Homo sapiens: one gene and its partners. The protein of the gene in region 1 purifies or fractionates together with the protein of each later gene. This does not show direct contact. Each region holds a gene or a part of one and is shown in the gene's direction. Other genes may lie near its edges.

Region 1 (4,300 bases):
CATCTTCAGGCTGTGTGTAGAGCAGCCCCCTCATGGTCCTGGGACCCAGAAATCATCTGCACCCCCAGCAGGCTCTGCACCCCCGGCAGGATCTGCACCCCCGGCAGGCTCCCCTAAGGGCCCCCAGAAGGATACCACTGCGGGTGGGCCCAGCCAGAGGAGCACCATGAGATCCGCTTGGTGGGGTGAGGCCGGCAGGGGAAGCACCCTGACCCCAGGACACTGGGCTCAATGCCCGCCCTGCCCCGTCCCACCCTGTGTATGGCGGGACAGAGTCCTTGGGCCTCAGGCACCCAGCTCCCCACCCCAGCCCCACCCACAATGCTCAGGGTCAGGCTGGCTGGACCGGGCGGGAGGTGGCATCTGGACTCCCCCTTCAGAAGGCAAAGCTGCCCTGAGATCTGCCTTCCCCTTCCCCCAGACTTCCTGCCATCACCACCACGGTAGAGATAAGGCCTCTAGGCTCAAAGGCCAGAGAGGGAGCCCACAGAGAGGGCAGGGCTGGGAGCCACAGCCTCCCTGCCCCCGGGGCTAGAGCTGGGGTCTTGCCCCAATCTTATCCTGACCCAAGCTCGGCCAGGTGGCTGCCAGGGCCCAGCTCCGTCTTCCTGTTTGTCTGTGTTGGAGCTTCCTGGGGCTGTCTCCGGCCTAAGGGAGCATGATGCAGCAGGCACCTTTTCAGTTTCTTTGACTCCATCGCAGTCCCCAACAGGGACCACAGCCCAGGACCCAGGAGGAGGGAGGTCCATGTCCCCACCCCCAACAGGGGCCACCGAGGGTGTCTGGGCAGCCTCTGTTGGGAGGGGCAGAGGCAGGGACCTGGGAGCTCTCAGGCTCTGGGGGCATCTGTGCACCTCTGCCCTGTGTCCCCCAGCTTGGAGGCAGCCCCCAGATGGACAGCCAGAAGGGGACACCCCAGCCCTGCCCCACAGCTTGGGGGGCAGCAGGCAGAGGACAGAAGCCCACCCAGGCTGGCCTGGCGTGGTGAGCCACGCCGGTAATCCCAGCACTTTGGGAGGCCAAGGCGGGCGAATCACCTGAGGTTGGGAGTTCAAGACCAGCCTGACCAACATGGAGAAACACTGTCTCTACTAAAAATACAAAAGTAACCGGGCGTGGTGGCGCTGCCTGTAATCCCAGCTACTCGGGAGGCTGAGGCAGGAGAAGCACTTGAACCCGGGAGGCGGAGGTTGCCGTGAGCCAAGATCACGCCATTGCACTCCAGCCTGGGCAGCAAGAGCAAAACTCCAACTCGAAAAAAAAAAGACCACCGAGGCTGCCTGTCCAGGGGAAGGGGCCCAGCCCTCGACCCCCACAGGCAGTGGCTCCAGGCTGTTGGGGAGGATCTGCCACTGGAATGGTTAACCCAGGCATCTCCAGCAGCCAATCACAGAGCTCTGCAGGAATACCTGGGAGAGGTCCTCATGCAGCCCGGGCGGGTCCTAGCCCAGCCCCAGTCTGGCCCTGGACAACCCCAGCAAAGCCGCCCTCAGCCAGCCCAGAAGCACTGGGCCTTGGCCACAGCAACACCCACTGAGCACGCTGGGAGCTGAGTATGGCGTCCCTGGTCTCGCTGGAGCTGGGGCTGCTTCTGGCTGTGCTGGTGGTGACGGCGACGGCGTCCCCGCCTGCTGGTCTGCTGAGCCTGCTCACCTCTGGCCAGGGCGCTCTGGATCAAGAGGCTCTGGGCGGCCTGTTAAATACGCTGGCGGACCGTGTGCACTGCGCCAACGGGCCGTGTGGAAAGGTAACAGCCCCACCCGACGGGTCCCCCAGCCCTGGCCTCTTCCCGCCAGCTCCGCCCTGCCAGCCGGCAGCAAAGGGCCCTGGGCAAACTCCAGGAGGCGGAGGAGGCTAGTGGCAGTACCTGGGCACCCTGACCCTCCCCACAGGCCAGAGCCCACCCTCCTGCTCATGAGGGCAGACAGGCCTTTCCAGGGACACAGTCCCTCTTCTCCCCAGGACCCCAGGGCCAACTCCCCCTGCCGGCCCTCTGCCATCAAATTGGCAGTGGCTCCAGGGGAGTCCCCTGGGGATGGGGGACCACTGTTGGGGACCCCTCTGCGTGCACCCCTGTAGTTGGGGAAGCAGGACAGGGGCCTGGGGAGACGGAAGGGCGCCAGGGGTTGAGAGAGGATGGTGGACGTTGTTGGACTTGAAAGGGAAACAGGCCCTCGGGGAAGCCCCTGGCCAGGCCTGCCTCTCCCCTCCCTGGTGGGCCCAGCGCCCCTGCTCACTTGTCTCTGCCCACAGTGCCTGTCTGTGGAGGACGCCCTGGGCCTGGGCGAGCCTGAGGGGTCAGGGCTGCCCCCGGGCCCGGTCCTGGAGGCCAGGTACGTCGCCCGCCTCAGTGCCGCCGCCGTCCTGTACCTCAGCAACCCCGAGGGCACCTGTGAGGACGCTCGGGCTGGCCTCTGGGCCTCTCATGCAGACCACCTCCTGGCCCTGCTCGAGAGCCCCAAGGCCCTGACCCCGGGCCTGAGCTGGCTGCTGCAGAGGATGCAGGCCCGGGCTGCCGGCCAGACCCCCAAGATGGTGAGGGAGAGTCCAGGCAGACCAGGGGAGTGGGTGAGGAGGGTCCCACGGCCCATGGGACCCGGCCTGGCTGCAAAGCCTTCGGGGAGCCTGGGGGCCTGGGGAGACGCCCAGGAGTCGGCCTGCGGCTGGGGATTCACAACGTGGGGCTCACTACTGGGCAGTTGGGAGCCTGTAGGAGCCCCGGGAGGGACCTCATGAGGGAGGAACCCAGAGGCCTGAGTGGGAGCCTGAAGCAGCTGGGCCCGGCAGGGAGGGCTGTGGCTCCAGGGAGGGGCGGGGCTGGTGGGGGCAGATCCTGTAGTTGGGGTGGGAGATGCATCCAGGGGCAGCGGGGTGGATGGCAGAAGGTCACACCAAAGGCTGAGGCGGAGGCCCCCTCTTCCCCAGGCCTGCGTAGATATCCCTCAGCTGCTGGAGGAGGCGGTGGGGGCGGGGGCTCCGGGCAGTGCTGGCGGCGTCCTGGCTGCCCTGCTGGACCATGTCAGGAGCGGGTCTTGCTTCCACGCCTTGCCGAGCCCTCAGTACTTCGTGGACTTTGTGTTCCAGCAGCACAGCAGCGAGGTCCCTATGACGCTGGCCGGTGAGGCCTGGGCTGGGCTGTGGAGGGGGGCACCCCCGAGTCCCCAGCCTCCACGTCCCTGGGGGGCAGGGCCGGAGCCCACACAGACTCGCGGTGCCAACTCTTCTCCCTGCCAGAGCTGTCAGCCTTGATGCAGCGCCTGGGGGTGGGCAGGGAGGCCCACAGTGACCACAGTCATCGGCACAGGGGAGCCAGCAGCCGGGACCCTGTGCCCCTCATCAGCTCCAGCAACAGCTCCAGTGTGTGGGACACGGTGAGCTGCGCCCTGGGGTAAGATGGGGCCTCACCGGGGTCTGCTTGGGCCCCTGAGCCTGTCCTGCCACCCCCCAGGTATGCCTGAGTGCCAGGGACGTGATGGCTGCATATGGACTGTCGGAACAGGCTGGGGTGACCCCGGAGGCCTGGGCCCAACTGAGCCCTGCCCTGCTCCAACAGCAGCTGAGTGGAGCCTGCACCTCCCAGTCCAGGCCCCCCGTCCAGGACCAGCTCAGCCAGTCAGAGAGTGAGTGCCCACGCCGACATTGTGCTGGCAGCACAGAGGTGGAGCCCGTGTAGGAAGGAAGGAGTGGCTGCCCAGGATGAGGGATGGAGAGAGTGAGCAGGGGCTGGAAGTAGAAACAACAGACACAGGGGAAGGTGGCGTCGCCAGGAGAGTGGGGCTTTGAGGCAGGAGGGTCAGCCTGAGTGAGGGCCTGGCCCACACTGACGGCCTGCAGCTCTGGTGAGCAGCGCCCGGGAAGCAGGGGCTGAGTCTGGAAGAAAAGCTCTCACAGCCGCCTCACCCGCCCCCAGGGTATCTGTACGGCTCCCTGGCCACGCTGCTCATCTGCCTCTGCGCGGTCTTTGGCCTCCTGCTGCTGACCTGCACTGGCTGCAGGGGGGTCACCCACTACATCCTGCAGACCTTCCTGAGCCTGGCAGTGGGTGCAGTCACTGGGGACGCTGTCCTGCATCTGACGCCCAAGGTCTGCCCCCACAAACCCGCGACCCTGGCCCTCCGTTCCCCACCATGGACTCCCAGGCCGTGCCCTCCCAGGGACCTTACCCACCCCACCTCCTGACCCCTCTCCCTGGGTCTTGGTGGGAGGCGCCCTGGGACCTCCCCCCCAGCCCAGCGCCCCTACTCCCCAGGTGCTGGGGCTGCATACACACAGCGAAGAGGGCCTCAGCCCACAGCCCACC
Region 2 (3,500 bases), on another chromosome or scaffold:
ATATGTCTAGAATTTGTTTTGAGATAATCTAGAGGGGTTGGGAGAAAATGGGGGTATAGATTAAATATGCATTAATAATTGTTGAAGCTACACAGTAATTACTTTGGCATTGACTATATTGTCATGTTTGCCTTTCCATGTGTTTGAAATTTTCCATGGTAAGAGGTTAGAAGTATTTTAGCTGTAGATAAAAGACCAATAGTGTTAGAAAATACTGTCCTGTCTTACCTTCCTTTAATCCCGATTTTACAAATACACTGTGCTTTTAAAAGGTGGAATTATCTGTCCATACCTTGTACTCATAGCCATACCAAGGGCTGCAGTGATTTTGTTTCTCTAAAACCACAATGAAAAATGATTTCCTTCCTTTGTACCTTCTAGAAAAACAGCATTCCCCACCCTTTGATTTTGTTAGGATGTAAACATGACTTTGGGATTGGTCAATCATTTCTTGGCGCATTACTGTGCCTTTTGTATGTGGTTCAGTGTGAATCAGTATATGCCTCTTTGTTTTCCAGGTCCTCGTTCACCTGGGACTCCTGACCAAGGAATCTGGATTTAAGATTGCAGAGACAGCTTTCAGTGGTGGCCCTCTTGGTGAATTAGTTCAATGGAGTGATTTAATTACATCTCTGTACTTACTGGGCCATGACATTAGGATTTCAGCTTCACTGGCTGAGCTCAAGGAGTAAGGAGATTACTTTTCAATTTTAAAATCAGAATACAAAAAAGAAATTGTAAACTCTTAAAGTATTACCTCTATTAGTGTATAATTTTTTGTCGAGGAAAATGAAAGTGATAATTCACTAAACAGGAGATAAGAAGATTATTTTCAGGAGCTAAATACATACACTGTGAAAAGGATAATATGTTTTCATTGTCGCTGAAGGCTCCAGAGGCTTCATAAATGAATGCCAGAAAATTCAAACTAAGGAGCTTATTCTTTGCTATTACAGGTGCTTCCAACATCTGGAGCACAAAACATTATTGACTTTCCTAATTCCCTGTCTCTTGCTGAAATTCATACCACTGCCTACTCAACATCAATCTTGCTAAATCTTGAAACAGGGCAGGTTCCTGTTTGTAATTCAATTTGGATAGAATAAATTTCCTGAAAGCCCTGAGCTGATCCTTTTTCAATTAGCCAACTTTCAGCTGAGTCTGTTAACTCTACTTGGGTTTTTCATTTCACTGAAATTTGCTTCTAGCTCCAGCCCTCCTGTAATCCCTTCTATATTGGCATAGCTGGCTGAGCAGGGACGCTTCCATCCCCTGCAGTCACTTAGGATTACTGCCCATGGAGACTTCCCACCCAACAGTCAAGTTGCCATGTTGCTATATGTCGTATATTTCCAGAAGGAATACCTTGAATGAACATTCTAGAGCTCATTGAGATGAGAGACATGTTAAAACAATATATGGTGGCTCCCAGCACTTCGGGAGGCCAAGGTAGGTAGATCACTTGAGGCCAGGGGTTCAAGAACAACCTGGCCAACATGGTGAGACCCTGTCTGTACTAAAAATACAAGAATTAACCGGGTGTGGTGGCCCATGCCTGTAGTCCCATCTACTCGAGAGGCAGAGGCTGCAGTGAGCCGAGATCATGCCACTGCACTCCAGCCTGAGTGACAGAGCAAGTCTCTGTCTTAAAAAAAAAAAAAAAAAATTGGATACACAACCTACAAAGTGGCTGCATTTATACAGTTAGCAGTCACTCATCTGGTGTCTTCTGTAGGCTAGTTTTGGTGTCGGGCATACAGAGATGGCCAGCTTGTGGTCAAAGATCTTGCTGCCAATCTTTTGATAATTACAACTAATATATTAAAAATAATTACACAAATTCCAATTCTATTGGTGCTAATTGAGGTGTACGTGGATGCTAGAATGTAAGCACTGGGATTGCAGAAAACTGAGTATCGTTTGTCACTGTGTAGTGGGCACCTAGATAGTGCCTAGCAAGTAATGAGTACTCACATAACTATTTATAGAATGAATGAGTGAAGGAATAAATAGGTGAATGAATGAGTGGGTAGGTAAATAAATGGAGTGCTGTGGTAGAACCAGGGACAAGTACTGCCTGGGGAGGTCAGGAAAGACATGTTAGGGATTTATCAGTCAGAGACTGAATTTGATGGTCAAGGGAAAATTTGTTCAGTATGTCCTCACTTAACATCGTTGATAGGTTCTTGGAAACTAGGACTATAAATGAAATTATGTAAAATGAAACCAATTTTTTTCATCAACATTATAACCAGTGATTTGAAGGAAATGACTTTATTGGAGGGCCTGCTATCTGTTGTTTTGTTTAAAGTCCCAGTTTTCAGGAACCTATTGATGATGTTAAGTGAGGACTTAATTCTAGTAGTCTTTATGCACACTGGGGTCAGGGCTAGATGTGTTTTGTTTAAGAAGATAATTGTGGAAGCAGTATAGAGCAGTGGTCTTTAAATATATCTGTACGTTAGAACCACCTGGAGATCTTTGTATTTATTTCTTAATTTTGGGGGATCTTTTAAAAATCCCATAGACCATGCCATAGGCTAATTAGATCACAACCCTTGGGGGTAGGACACAGCCATAAGTATTTTGTGATGCCTCCAGGTAATTTCATTATACAGACAAGTTTGGGAAACACTGAACATGGGGTGGACCAGAGATCAGCAAACTATGGCTCAGCAGGCCAAATCAGCCCTCTGTCTTTTTTTGTAAATACAGTTTCATGGGAACACAGCCATGCCTATTGTTTACGTATCATATATAGCTGTCTTCATTCCACAACGGGAGAATGGGCCAGTTGTGACTGAAAATGTATGGCCTGCAAAGATGAAGATAATCACTGTCTGGCCCTTAACAGAAAGGGTTTTCTGACTCTTGGGAGGAAACTGGTTCTGCAGAACCTAGTTCTTTCATAAACAGGGGAGAGGAAGAAGGGTGGCTGATGTGGTGGTAGTACAGAGCTGTCAAGCAGAGTCCTGTTTGTGACTCTCGTCCTTTGAAGCAGGATATCCATAATTTGGTGAAGGATTATCATGGGGTGTTGCAGATAAGCAACAGTGGTGACTGATTAGTGAGTGGATGGCAGTAGGGTTAGCACTGACTCGTTCCTACACATGAAGTTGGCCTACCAATCAAGTACATCGTCACGCTCTGAGCGCAAGTATGGTTTTGTGTGGATGGATGCATGGGTGGGGGAAAGGGTGATTAAAAAAAACTGTAAACCATAGTGCTAGTTCTGTAATATGGTCAAGCGAGGAGGAAAAATTTGACATAAGAGAAAAAGTTAAGGAACAGTATGAGGCAGGTAGAAAGAAGTTAATACTATAGAGGCTAGAAATTGAAGACATTTAGAAAAAGGGGAGGGGAAGGTTAGTAAGGGTGCTAAGCGGTAAGAACAGGCTCTGGGGGAGAAAACTAAGTTATTGAGTATCTAGTATTCATTAGGCACTTTCTTTTCAATATCTCATTGTGAAGAACCCCTGAGAGACTGGTATCCAATGTTC
Region 3 (3,500 bases), on another chromosome or scaffold:
TTGAGACGGAGTCTCGCTCTGTCGCCCAGGCCGGACTGCGGACTGCAGTGGCGCAATCTCGGCTCACTGCAAGCTCCGCTTCCCGGGTTCACGCCATTCTCCTGCCTCAGCCTCCCGAGTAGCTGGGACTACAGGCGCCCGCCACCGCGCCCGGCTAATTTTTTGTATTTTTAGTAGAGACGGGGTTTCACCTTGTTAGCCAGGATGGTCTCGATCTCCTGACCTCATGATCCACCCGCCTCGGCCTCCCAAAGTGCTGGGATTACAGGCGTGAGCCACCGCGCCCGGCCTTTTAACGTAATTTTTATCAGTGGACACCTTACTGAATTATAGTACATTTCAGTTTTTTTAAAAAGCTGCTTCTGTTTTCCATGTATGCAATTATATAATCCGACAGTAATTTTTGTGGCTGTCTTTTTAGTATCTATATCTGTTCTTTAATTTTATTTTTCTAATTAATTCCAAGGCTAGGACTTCAGAACAATGTTAAGTAGTAGTGTGATTGTAGGCATTATTCCTACCACTGACGTTACAAGCAGTGCTCCTAGCTTTTCACCAGTTCTAGTGAATTTGTTTAACTAAATTGGAAATGGAAATTAAATGTCATTTTAAACTTTTCAAAATACATATAGATTCTTATATAGTTTTTCTCATTTGAGTTAAATTAAATTAGTAAGTTTCCTGGTATTTGATAAACCATGTATTCCTGGAATGAACTATTTCATTGTTATCACATACTGTTTATATAGCTTTGCATTCTACTAGCTGCAATTTTAGATTTTGACATCAATTTTCATGTCTTGCCTGGATCTTTACAAGAGCAACTTACATTGCTCCTTTAAAAAATGTACTGTTGCTCCCCTCCAGTTTATTTACATTTTCCAACTTCTTCAGTTAGATGCTTAATTTACATGTTTGTGTTCTTTTAATGGCTGCCTATAGAAGCACCTTTATAAATTCAGAGTATTGTAATTCTTTTTCCGGTTGATTAGAACCAATTGTCCTCTAGATATATGTACAGTGTGTCAGTGAATAGGATTTATGTGCACAAAACACATCATCACTACATAAAACATTCCGAGTATCACATAACTGTGTAGCCATGACCCATCCTTCTCTTCCTGGTGTTTTGGTGCGGCCACCAAAATCTGATAGGTATGCCAGTTATTGGAGTAGGTGCAGTTATAGCAAGGCATGATACTGACTTACTTCATTGTATTTCCTTCTGCTTAATCTTCTCTAGACATGCTGTGCAACTTAACGTCACTGCCACCCGGCAGCTCTTGCTTATGGCTAGTCAGATGCCAAAGCTGGAAGCCTTTATACATATCTCTACTGCCTATTCAAATTGTAACCTGAAGCACATCGATGAAGTTATCTATCCGTGCCCTGTGGAGCCAAAAAAAATCATTGATTCCCTTGAGTAAGTTGGTCTAATAAAAGGATCAAGGGGCGGGTAGAATAAGTTCCTTTGTTCTCTTTGATTCTTTGTAGCTATTAATGAGATGATGAAGTCAAACACTTTTGAAGCAAAATGTTTTGAAACGGTGCTAGCCTTAGCTACCTTGTCCCTGCTAGTTCTGGTGGGGAATATACTGCTAAAAGAGAAGGGGGATAGAAAATTCTTAAACATTTTGTGGAATTGCGTAGGATTGCATGAGGTACTTGGGAATACTATACATAGAAGTTGTTTCTCACTTCTTAATGAACTTAGCATTGTCACTGGATAAAGCAAGTATAATGTATAGTATAAAAGTTCAGAAGAAAAATGTCTGATTCAGACTGACGTGAGTTTGGCATAGCTCCACCAGTAACTACCTGTGTGACTGAGCAAATTCCTTGCCCTCTCTGAGCCCCAAGTCCTTCATTTGTAAAATGGGCCCATTTTATAGTTGTGAGGTTGAAAAAAGTTATATAAAACACTTATTGCAGTGCTAGGGAGTGTTTAACAGCACTTAATCAAATAATTCATAAAAAAGAACTAGAGGCTGGGGGTGGTGGCTCACGCCTGTAATCCCAGCACTTTGGGAGGCTGAGGCGGGTGGATCACCTGAGTCCAAGAGTTCAAGACCAGCCTAAAATACAAAAATTAGCTGGATGTGGTGGCAGGCGCCTGTAATCCCAGGTACTTGGGAGGCTGAGGCAGGAGAATCACTTGAACCTGGGGAGAATCGCTTGAACCTGGGAGGCAGAGGTTGCAATGAGCCGAGATTGTGCCGTTGCACTCCAGCCTGGGCAACAAGAGTGAAACTCCGTCTCAAAAAAAAAAAAAAAAAAAAGAACTAATGAAGAATAAGAATTGCTCCAAGATCTGGCAGAAGGTGACAGTCTCTTGACTTATTTGGCTGAGACACACTTTCTTTACTGTCCTAGGATGCAAGAGAAATAATGTCTAGGATTTTTCTCTTCTTGCCAATGAGCAGAAACCACTTTCATCTTAAAACACAGCTCAGGTCTTAGAATAAGTTTGTTTTCTGCTTCTTTATTCTTCTGCTCCATTTTACTAAGTTTACCTTGTTTTTTTTTTTTGTAAAAAACTATATAAAAAGTATTATAGCAGAAAAATGGACTATTTCACAATGAATTTGTCACATTATAATTTTATATAATACTGTATTTATATTTAATATATACTCTTTAAAAAGTTTTAGCTAAATCAAGAGTTCATTACCTTCAGGGCAAACATTTTTATCTCCTCCAGCTCTGAGAATAGATATTTTTGTCTGTCATGTAAAAATATCCAGGACAAAGAAGAATGAAAGTCATCTAAAGGATCTGGAGGTTAAAGTTGCTAATAAATGGAGGTTTGCTAAATTGGTACAGAGAAAAATTTTAGAGTGCAGAGTTCATCAGGATAGTGGGAGAAAAAGCAGGTGTATTCTGAGGCCCAAAGTCTAGACAATAAAGTATGTTTAAAGCCTCAGAGCATTTTCAGGATGGAATTGGTTTCTGTCAGTTACCCTCTTATGGTGTTGTCTCTTGGTAAATGTGATGTTTTCATATTTGATATGTCCAGGAGAGGGGCAGACCCCTTTTGATTCCAGATTGTTTCCTGGGACTTTCTCCACTGCTGATCTCTCTAACACCTGACAGGTCATAGTGCAATTTGAGGTAGCAAAAGAGCCTGAGAGTTCATCAGAGAAAAGAAGTAAGAGGCCAGGTGTGTTGGCTTATGCCTGTAATCCCAGCACTTTGGGAGGCCGAGGTGGGTGGATCACCCGAGGTCAGGAGTTCGAGACCAGCCTGACCAACATGGTGAAACCCTGTCTCTACTAAATACAAAAAATTAGCTAGGTGTGGTGGCACATGCCTGTAATCTCAGCTACTTGGGAGGCTGAGGCAGTAGAATTGCTTGAATCCAGGAGGTGGAGGTTGCAGTGAGCTGAGATTGCACCATTGCACCCCAGCCTGGTCAACAAGAGCAAAACTTTGTCTCAAAAAAAAAAAAAAAAAAAAAAGAAAGAAAAAGAAAAGAAAAGAAGTAAGAGTTCACCCATAGT
Region 4 (3,500 bases), on another chromosome or scaffold:
AGAAGATATGGGGCAGTAAATTTTCAGGTCTTAAATTGTACCAGGAGGAGTCTTGTGCTGCCAGAGGGCATGACTTAGTAGTCTAATTAAGTGTGCAATGCCTGGCCTCCCAAGTCCTTAGTTAACATCTCTAGTAGCCCAGGGGCTGGGAAAGAAAATGACGCATGGTCCTCTGGCCAGCCCTGCATTGACTGTCTTACTCATGTAAATGAGGGGGCATCCTGGTGCAGATAACGGCTTTTATTTCTCTTTGGCTTCGGGTGTGTCATAGTTGGGGGTGTTTTATTACATCCATTTATTGGATTCATCCACCAAATATCTTTGCTTCCCAATTGTTTTGTAAAAACAGATTCATAGTAAGTTTAATCTGCCTTCTATCATAAAAACTGTAGTTGATGATGAGAGGAAGTGGCCCAGAAACACAGGCAGCCAGAGGGGAAACTGGAATTTGAAGACTTAAAACAAAAACAGGAAAAAATAACTTTCTGTAAGACTTCTCAGTGCTGTTAGTTTTGTCTTTTAATTAGAAAAAAGTTCCATGGTTTCTATTTCTTGGTCCTTCACATCTCTAAATGAATCAGACCCACAAGTGAATGGCACATTTGTTCCCTGGCCTTCTCTGATCTGGACACACTCAGGCTCCACTTGAGTGAGCCCAGACAGGTACCCTCCAGGTCCTAGCTACAGATGCGCTCCGTGGGCAGACGGCATTCAGCACCTGCCAGCGAGGGCTTCAGACGCAGATATCCCTATTTGTAACCATTCAGACCTTCATCAGAGCATCAGAAAGCAGGGGCTGGGCCATCTCAATGCAGGCTTTGTGGAGCTAAGATTTCATGGGGCACCCTTGGCCTTTCTGGAGGGTGGACACAGGAACAAGCAGGTGGGGACGTGTTTCTTGGCTTTGGTGAGGCTCTTGCTGAAAGTCTTATTCTTTGCATGGCTCCAGGCTTACCGAGATCACAGACGGGCATTTGAATTTCAGATTCATGTTCTTTCCCTTTTCGGTCGTTGAAGACGGTGACACTTTGTGTTTTTCTTTCTGCCTTTGTGCTGCTGAAAACGTGGGGACAGGCTGGGAGTGGGTGTGTTGTCTTAATCAGGCCGTCTCGTTGTCTGGTACCGTCTGTCCTCCTGTTTCCTTTAGGTGGTAGCAGCCTCTGCTGAGTGGTTTGTGTGAGTTCGCACTGAATCCTACCACAATCCTTACTCAGATGAGGGCTCTGAGATTCCACCTAACGGGAGACGAGATGGCAGCTGCTGACATTCTGCCCTGTCTGCAAGCTCTCCTAGCTCTTCCAGCTCTCCCATCTCTGCAAACTCCGACAGCAGTTGCTCTTCCTCTGAGGAAGCTGAGCGACTGCATCATCCCCCGACCACGTCGCCTCTGCTCAGCCCTCTTAATGGCCGTCATTCCAAGGGAAAGGCAGGAGCCAGGAGCCTCTGGGATGCAGCCCCTTGGTTACAGTGTCTGCTTTCAGCTTTGCCTCTGCTTCTCCAGGGTCTTTCTCAGGCAGTTAACCCAATATTTATCAACTCTCTCCCTAGGCCCAGCACTTGGCAGAATTTTTTTCTATTTTGTAAAAGTATGAGATATTCCTTGCTGTTTAGTATTTGACAGTGTGGCTGGAGAAGTAAAGATGGACAGACGGACCCCTCCCACCCACCCCTCCTTGCTGACCACTTGTCCCGTGCCTTTCCAGTTCTGTCAGGCCAAGCAGAAGGCAGCCTTGCTGGAGCTGCTGCATGAACTCTACAATTTCCTGGCCATCCAAGCTGGTGAGTAAGTCACGTAAGTCCTGAGATTCCTCTTGTGAGAGCTATGGGCGGCTGACCCGGTTCATCAGGCTTAGTTACACTGCTGCTGGCCAGCGAGACACTCCCTGGTTGTCTCTCAGAAGGCATATTCAGAAGCCGAGTCTCACCTTCTCGCCTCCTCACTCAGGCACATCTTTTATAAGCCTTGTGTTTGAACAAAACATATTTGATTCTTGCTCCTCTTTAAGGGAGGTCCTGGCATGTGAACAGGCCTTCCTGCAGCTGTTCTTCCTTCTTGGGGATGCCCACTACCTAATGCTTTGGGGGTCTCTGTTGGCATGGGAAGGGGCCAAGCCCCAGGTGTTGTCAGGATCTGTGTCCTTCACCCTAGAGGGACCCTCTGAACCAGGTGGTTGGCTGGGCCCGGGAGAGGCCTCTTGCCTGTGCAAGTAGCAGATAGTCTGTGTAGTGGGCCCTGGTGTCACATCTGGTCCTGATCACCATGTGGCTGTGGGACCTCGGACAAAGTCCCTGATCCTCTCAGGGTCTTCATCTCCCTGTCTGACCAAGGGCTCTTGGGTCTGTCTGTTCTCTACAAATGAGAGTCAAGTGCTGTCCTCTAAAGGAGGGCATTCTCAGCACCTCTGTGAAATGCCCCTGAAAATGCATCCAGAAGATGCATCCCCTACTGTTTTATTTGGTGAAGTTATTCCTTGAGGCCAGAGATACCACCTGCATTATTATGTCCTGCCCGACGCCTGGCATCCAGGAGGCTCTCAAAATCACTTGCAGTTGACATAGGTGAATATCAGCATGTGCGCCTTGTGTTAAATGCGCTGGACACAAGAACCAGACAGAGCAGTTCTATCTTAAGGGATATTCAAGAGGCGCCTCTTACCTGTGGGGTCAGAGGACAGGTCTTAGGATTGTGAGGTCAACCCTTGTCTAAGGTTTCACTGGGAAATTAGGGTCGGGTGGACTTCTCCTGGGCCCTCAGTCCTCAGGGTCAATCTCATGAGCATCAGCTCTTCTGCCTCCTCCCTCTTGAAAGTGAGAGATGAGATGGTAGGGGAGGCATCCATGAGCACTTGGAGGAGAAACAGGTACTGGGGCTCCTGCTCACAGCATCATAGGAATTCCTCTGTACGGCCCAGGTGCTTGGGATGTCAATTCTGACCTAAGAGAGTGTTCCAAACCTTTGTGTCTCAAATGTGGTCCAAGGACCCATAGCATCTGCATCACGTGGGAGCTCACTAGAAATTCAGAATCTCAGGTCTCATGCCAAACCCAGTGAATCAGAGTCTGTATCTTAAGATCCCCAGGGGATTTGAGTGCACCCTAAAGTTGAGAAGCACTGCTCGAAATTGGGTCCTAGTAGATATTTCTCCTCCATCCTACCCTCCATATGTGGTCTTGCCTTATGCCCTCAAGGGCCCTGGCACCTGTTGCCCTCCGACAAGCCTGGGGGGCCGCCTTGAAGGTACATATCTCATTGAGACAGGAGTGTGCCTCACAGAGGCTCCCTAGTAGTCCTCAACCCCTTCCATGCCTCTCCTGTTAGGGATCCGCTGTGGGCTGGGCACTGTGCAGGCCCTTGCAGTGAGATGACTCAGCTCCAGGTCCTGCCTGCAGGGCCCAACCCCGGCTTGGGGTCTACTGGAAGAGACAGGCCACCTACCTCCCTGACCACTGGGTGATATAAAATGTGATTAGACAAGAACCAAGAGGCCAGAAGTTCTGGG

The links. The genes of interacting proteins can lie anywhere in the genome.
Region 2: the proteins of SLC39A4 (region 1) and MGAT5 purify together in Homo sapiens (affinity purification with mass spectrometry; 4 studies listed by BioGRID and IntAct, with this or other methods). This does not show direct contact.
Region 3: the proteins of SLC39A4 (region 1) and FAR2 purify together in Homo sapiens (affinity purification with mass spectrometry; 4 studies listed by BioGRID and IntAct, with this or other methods). This does not show direct contact.
Region 4: the proteins of SLC39A4 (region 1) and LEMD2 purify together in Homo sapiens (affinity purification with mass spectrometry; 5 studies listed by BioGRID and IntAct, with this or other methods). This does not show direct contact.

What each region holds. Positions count from the first base shown.
Region 1 is NC_000008.11:144,414,045-144,418,344, reverse strand, and holds the start of SLC39A4 (zinc transporter ZIP4 isoform 2 precursor), read left to right. Parts: upstream 1-1,500; 5' UTR 1,501-1,555; coding exon 1,556-1,747; exon of another isoform or gene 1,748-2,136; coding exon of another isoform or gene 2,137-2,253; coding exon 2,254-2,535; exon of another isoform or gene 2,536-2,925; coding exon 2,926-3,118; exon of another isoform or gene 3,119-3,234; coding exon 3,235-3,371; exon of another isoform or gene 3,372-3,448; coding exon 3,449-3,620; exon of another isoform or gene 3,621-3,723; intron 3,724-3,910; coding exon 3,911-4,083; intron 4,084-4,249; coding exon 4,250-4,300. UniProt on the Homo sapiens protein: Selective transporter that mediates the uptake of Zn(2+). Plays an essential role for dietary zinc uptake from small intestine. The Zn(2+) uniporter activity is regulated by zinc availability.
Region 2 is NC_000002.12:134,341,072-134,344,571, forward strand, and holds part of MGAT5 (alpha-1,6-mannosylglycoprotein 6-beta-N-acetylglucosaminyltransferase A), read left to right. Parts: intron 1-518; coding exon 519-688; intron 689-3,500. UniProt on the Homo sapiens protein: Catalyzes the addition of N-acetylglucosamine (GlcNAc) in beta 1-6 linkage to the alpha-linked mannose of biantennary N-linked oligosaccharides.
Region 3 is NC_000012.12:29,295,778-29,299,277, forward strand, and holds part of FAR2 (fatty acyl-CoA reductase 2), read left to right. Parts: intron 1-1,243; coding exon 1,244-1,423; intron 1,424-3,500. UniProt on the Homo sapiens protein: Catalyzes the reduction of saturated but not unsaturated C16 or C18 fatty acyl-CoA to fatty alcohols (FAls). A lower activity can be observed with shorter fatty acyl-CoA substrates.
Region 4 is NC_000006.12:33,782,631-33,786,130, reverse strand, and holds part of LEMD2 (LEM domain-containing protein 2), read left to right. Parts: intron 1-1,611; coding exon of another isoform or gene 1,612-1,638; exon of another isoform or gene 1,639-1,670; intron 1,671-1,703; coding exon 1,704-1,779; intron 1,780-3,500. UniProt on the Homo sapiens protein: Nuclear lamina-associated inner nuclear membrane protein that is involved in nuclear structure organization, maintenance of nuclear envelope (NE) integrity and NE reformation after mitosis.